Regions from separate parts of the Homo sapiens genome. Here region 1 is linked to region 2. Evidence: fine-mapped expression QTL. Tissue or cell type: thyroid. Region 2 holds a variant in brackets; the other region holds the start of a gene. All regions are shown on one strand. Distances are between the middles of the regions.

What was found. PIP is the estimated chance that this variant, and not a neighbour inherited with it, causes the effect. A credible set is the group of variants that fine-mapping cannot tell apart.
Region 1: it holds the start of PNCK, and the variant in region 2 is the best candidate, but not a certain one, in a credible set for the expression of PNCK in thyroid (GTEx, PIP 0.79).

Annotation. Positions count from the first base shown.
Region 1 is chrX:153,672,822-153,675,695 of GRCh38, reverse strand. PNCK (pregnancy up-regulated nonubiquitous CaM kinase) reads left to right here and starts at 1,883. Exons shown (of 12, transcript NM_001366977.1): 1 at 1,883-1,916; 2 at 2,618-2,687. The coding sequence starts at 2,620.
Region 2 is chrX:153,698,834-153,701,723 of GRCh38, reverse strand. BCAP31 (B cell receptor associated protein 31) reads left to right here. Exons shown (of 8, transcript NM_001256447.2): 8 at 749-1,232. The coding sequence ends at 787. Among named protein-coding and RNA genes, the nearest start is that of SLC6A8, 12 kb to the right of the region's middle. The variant T/A (reference allele first, on the strand shown) is at 1,703.

The sequences.
Region 1 (2,874 bases), 26 kb after region 2:
AAATTAGCTTGGTGTGGTGGCATGCACCTGTAGTCCCAGCTACTCGAGGCTGAGGCGGGAGAATTGCTTGAACCCAGGAGGCAGAGGCTGCAGTGAGCTGAGATGGCACTACTGCACTCCAGCCTGGGCGACAGTGAGACCCTGTCTCAAACAACAACAACAATAACAAACCAAAAAAAACCCCATGATACAATGATTCAAACAAAAACTGTGCCATCAGCTTTTACATGAGGCCAGGGCCACCTGAGTCACCTCGTGGACCAATACCTGCCCGCTGGCTCGTCTTTCCCAGGCCCACTTTGGAGGTGGGTGCTTTCCTTCTGGCCTCCAGTTTCCATCTGCTGCCCCTCAGATAGGTCTCTTTGTGCCATCTCTTTCCACGCGGGCAGTTTTTTATTACTTTTCTGGGGCACAGAAATATGTGTATTTCTATTTCTTTTTATAACCCAGGACCATGTTGTAGAACTCTGCTTGGGCAAAGCACCATTGGCGTATTAGACATTCTGGGGAACTATCTGTAGGTATCTGTAAACAAATTGCACTTCCTGCTGTCATGAGAAGGGGCTCACCATCAGTTCCATTCCTATTTTTTTCTGTTTTAGATGTCGGTCCCAGGAAACCATTTTCACATAGAGGAGCAGGTGGGACTGGAGTTTCTGAGTGCTGGGGTCCCTGGAGCCTTCTGCAGTGTCCTGGGAGGGGTGACTGGGAAAGGCCAGGGGGCAAGAGCTGCTAGGGGCCTTCTCAGATTTCCCAGTTTTTACACAGAGTATATATGGGAGTTGAGGTCTGGAAAAATGATTTTTTAAAAACTCTTCCTGCCCCGTGGACTCTCTTGAAGACGTCGTGTCATGCCAGGGCCCACGGTCACTTGACGGAACCCTTGTGATGCTGGCCACAACCTCATGGGACTGGATGGCGAGCAGCGAGGGGGGTCCAGTAACTGTTGGATGCAGGATTGAATTCGGTCACCCGCACTTATTTCCTGGGCTCGTCTTGGTTGGGTTCGCGGAGATACACTCTCTGGGAGCGGACGCTTTGGTGAGGAAGACCAGGCGAAGAAGGTGATTTTTGCGGTTGGACGTTCTAAAGACAGGGCAGGGTTATGCGGAGAGAATTGGCAGGGGCAGGGCGGGGGAGGCCGGTTTGAGGAGGGGACATTTGAGCCGAGATCTGATGGAACGAGGAGCCAAGCCAGGCAGATATCTGATCGAAGAACATTCCAGGCAGGGGAGCAAAGGCTAGGGCCGTCAGGAGGCCAGTGTGGCCGGGGAAGAGGTGGAGGAGGAGGGGCCAGGGCAGTCGTTAGGCCGCCCCCTAAGGACTCATGCTTTGACTTGGATTGACATAGAGAGCTGCAGGAGGGTGACATGATCTCAATAAAAGGAATGCTCTGGCTGCTGGGTAGAGAAGAAAGCGAGGGTGAGGGATTAATGGTGGAGCCAGAGGGAGCCCAGTGAGTGCCGGGAGCCCAGGGTGGCAGAGCTGTGGTGCAGGGTTGCAGGGTCCTGGAGCTAGGCATGGAGGCTGCTTTCGGGCAAGTGGCCGGGTCAGCCTGTCCTCGGAGAGGCGGTGAAGGCAGAGACTGGAAGGCAGAGAGCCTTGCCGACCTGTGGCCGAAGAGCTCTCCGGGAGACAGCCACCGGTGGTGCAAAGGCCCTGGGGCCGGCCCAGCCGGGCCGCAGCTCCGGGAGGCGGCGCGAGCGAGCAGTGGGCTGGGCGGTGGCGGCCGGCACCCGAGCCGGATCCCGGCGATTGCCTTACAAGGTGCCCTGCGGCGCCGCGGCCGCGCTGGGCCACTGCGTGCTTGGGCGGCTGGCGGGGGCGTGCGCGGAGGGGGCGGGGCCGGCGGGGCGCGGGCGGGGGGCTTGGCGCTGCGGCCACTGCGCGGCACGACGCTGCGGCACCCGCTCCAGGTCTGCACCTGCTCCGGGGCGCGGGGACGCGCGGGGCGGGGGCGCACCGGATCCGGCCCGCGGCCGCCGCAGCCTTGCGCGTCCGCAGCACACCTGTCACGCCTGGCGCGCCCCCTGCCCGCACGCGCTCGGTCCACGCAGCTCGGGACGCGGGCGGCCCAGGCTGCCAGGTCCCCCTGCTCCGCGGCGCCGAGGGCTGGGCTGCGTCTGCGGCCGCGTGGGTGGCCGCGGTCTTGGCAGGTGGCTGCGCGCGGGGGTCGCAGGTGCATCCCGGGCGGCTTGGTGGCTTGGGCAGCGGGTGCCTGTGGGCGCTGTGCCATGGGTGGCGGGTCTAGGCGGGGGTGGGGGCTTGGGCGCTGTAGATGTGTGGATGGGGGAGGGACGGCGTGGGTGAGCATGGAGCCTTCTGGAAAGCGGCCGGATGTGTGGAGGCAGAGAGGCAGCATCCAGGCGCTGGTCGCCTTCGGGGTGCGGGGGAGGGTGCGTGGGATAGCAGCTGTAGGCCTGGGATGTGGAGGCGTGTATGCGGTGGCCTCGCTGGGAGGCGTCCGTCTGGGGGTGTGGACCTGGACGGGGGAGGGGAGGGTCGAGCGCGCAGCGGCAATGGCTGAGGCCTGCCTGGCAGGGGGTGGAGGAGGAAGCTGCCCTTGCCCCCGGCGGGGCGGGGAGAGACCCCCATCACCTCTCCCCTGCCCCTGCAGACATGCTGCTGCTGAAGAAACACACGGAGGACATCAGCAGCGTCTACGAGATCCGCGAGAGGCTCGGCTCGTGAGTGTGCGCGCGCGTGTGTGATCGTGTGTGTGTGTGTGTGTGTGTGTGTGTACCTGTGTGAGATGGCATGTGTGTGTGACTACGCGAGTGGGTGTGAGATGATGTGTGTGTGTGTGAATATGTAGGGGTGTGTGAATGTGAGTGAGTCTGTGAGATGGCATGTGTGAGTGGTGGTGGGGGGTGG
Region 2 (2,890 bases):
CCTGGTCAAGAACAAAGAAGCAGGTGAAACTCTGGGACCCACTGCTGGCCTTCTTTCCTAGGGTGCTGGGGAGTGACGTAGGGCAAAGATCCCTGGGCAAGTGAGGGCACAAGGTGTCAAAAAGGCACCTTCCCTAGCAGGCGCTAGTTGTGGCCATCACCTGCTGCCCTAGGCCTGATCTGAGTCCTCAGACTAGCTTGGGTGCACCAGGCCGCATCTGGAAGCCCAGGCGGTCTTGACGTTGGGAGTGAGGGCCACATAAATACTCCTAACTTTGGACAGCTGGCCTCAGTGCTTGGTGGCCCAAGTTTGGGCACCACAGCAGGTGGGGAGGAAGGGTCCAGCCTCAAAGGGGGCACCCATGCCCTCTGTATGGGGCAGGCTTGGCAGATGGGCTTCGAGGGCACCTGTCAAAGGTGTGCAGAGTTGGGAAGGGTCTGATCAGGTCTTGAAGGGGACTGGATGCCTTGCTGTTCCCTGCAGCCAGGACTCAGCCCCCAGTGAGGTCCTGGCAGTCCTCCCTGGCTGGCGTTAGGTCCAGGGCTTTCCCTAGAGCGTGGGCCAGGGCTGACGCTCCCACCCTGGCAGGCCTTTGGGTGCAGCTGGGGAGGGGGCCCCTTGTTCACTTGAATAGCTGTTGTTAGGAGAGAGGGGAACCGAGGTGGACCTCTGGGGCATGGGGCTGGAGGTGGCAGGGGAGGAGTGGACCCGGCCAACCTACTGCTGTGGGATTTCTGTCCCTTTCCAGGCTGCAGTAGATGGTCCCATGGACAAGAAGGAAGAGTAAGGGCCTCCTTCCTCCCCTGCCTGCAGCTGGCTTCCACCTGGCACGTGCCTGCTGCTTCCTGAGAGCCCGGCCTCTCCCTCCAGTACTTCTGTTTGTGCCCTTCTGCTTCCCCCATTCCCTTCCACAGCTCATAGCTCGTCATCTCGGCCCTTGTCCACACTCTCCAAGCACATTACAGGGGACCTGATTGCTACACGTTCAGAATGCGTTTGCTGTCATCCTGCTTGGCCTGGCCAGGCCTGGCACAGCCTTGGCTTCCACGCCTGAGCGTGGAGAGCACGAGTTAGTTGTAGTCCGGCTTGCGGTGGGGCTGACTTCCTGTTGGTTTGAGCCCCTTTTTGTTTTGCCCTCTGGGTGTTTTCTTTGGTCCCGCAGGAGGGTGGGTGGAGCAGGTGGACTGGAGTTTCTCTTGAGGGCAATAAAAGTTGTCATGGTGTGTACGTGGTGCGGTGTGTGACTGCAGCTGTGGGGAGGGCTCTGCTTTCTCTCCTGCCTGGAGCCCCCAAGCGGCCACAGCCCTTCAACCTGTTTCCCCCACTGAAGGCCAGGCTCACACCTGTTCTCGAAGGCCTTGCCCTCTCTGTCCTCCTGCTCCCCGGGCTGGGCCAGGCCTCGCTTCAGGGCCACCCGCCGAGTGTGTGTCCTGTCTGCCTCCCTGGGTGTGGGCAGCTTGGGAGGCTCAGTAAACCGGCGGGGCTTCCGGGTAGAGGACTCGCTTGCCTTCTCTGGGTTCCTGTTCGTCACATTTGGGACAGACAGAACGTGGCAGAACGCCACTAGTCACTCCCTGCCCCCCCCCCCGAAGGTTTGCAGGATGACCTCTGACTAATGCCAGCTGGGAGAGGAGACTTGTCCTTGGCAGTGACCTGGAGCTGGCCCAGGGCAGAGCTAGGCAGAAAGGGGCTGGGAATGGGC[T/A]GGGGCCCTTGGCCCTGAGAACGTGCTGGGTGTGTGCCTGCCACCAGAGCGCTGTGCTGGCTCCAGGGTGTCCCTCCCGTGGCTCCCTCAGAGCTGTGTCTTCCAGGCCCACAGCAAGCCAGGCCAGTACCGGGGCTTCCTGCCTGGCACCAGTGCCCAGGCCCCTGCACTGTGCTACTCTCCAGTAGCACATGAGGAAGGCAGCCCCCGCCCGCAGCACAGTGCTTCCACCCTGCAGGGCCTCTGCCATGCCTGGTGTCTGCATGAGGACTGGGCGGAAGGGTCAGGGGAGCAGGTTAGAGGTGTGTCTCCTGGAACTGGGGGGACCCCTGAAGGATGTTGATGCTGGCAGGGTAGCTGACGGCCTGCTGTGCATGCTCGCTTCTGCCTGCCCTGTCCGGGCCCAGGCCAGTGGTTCCCTTCTCTAGCATCCTGTCGCCCTTCCCTTGTGCTCAGAGCACAGCCGCCTCATGACGAGTTCTGTCCCTTTCCAGGCGGTCTGAGAGGTGGTGTCTGAGGGAGTAGGGGACACGTGGGCGATACCCTCTGGTTGCTGTGCCAAGGCCGAAGGCTGATCCCACTTTTCCAGGAAGTGCTCTCAGCTACCTTGGACCTCCCTGAGCTCACCCTTCTCTGAGCTTTGAAAGGCTAAAGTCCAAACGGGTGCTTCCCTCACCAGCCCTGATGGCTTCTTCCGCTGTTCTGCCTAGGCCAGCAGCAGACAGAAAGCTGCACGAGGCCAGCTTCTGGAGCGCCCTTTCTAGTGGAGTGATGGAACAACAACGGGGCAGGGGGTGTGGGCACAGGCTCTTAGAGATGAAAATTGAGGTGCTTGCCCAGCCTAGACTGGAGGGCGGCCTGCAGGCTCGCGCCTTCCTGGATCAGCTTCTGTTCCAGGGCATCTGCACCCGTGGGCGTCCTGATCTGTTTTCTTACCCATCTTCCACTAGACTGCGAGCTGCTTGAGGGCAAAGCCTGCTGCTTGTTGATCTCTGTGTCCTAACCCCTGATGCAGGAGCTAAGTCCTGAGGAAATGGTGTCTCTATTTCAGGACCCTCTTTAAGTGACAGGCCTCTGTGAAGTTTCCTTTTTTCAATGTCTTTTTTCTGTGTGTTTAGTGTCATCGTGGTGCATGAGGTGGCTTGGAGGGCATTTGGCCTGGAGGTGCGGAGAACAATTAGCAGAGGG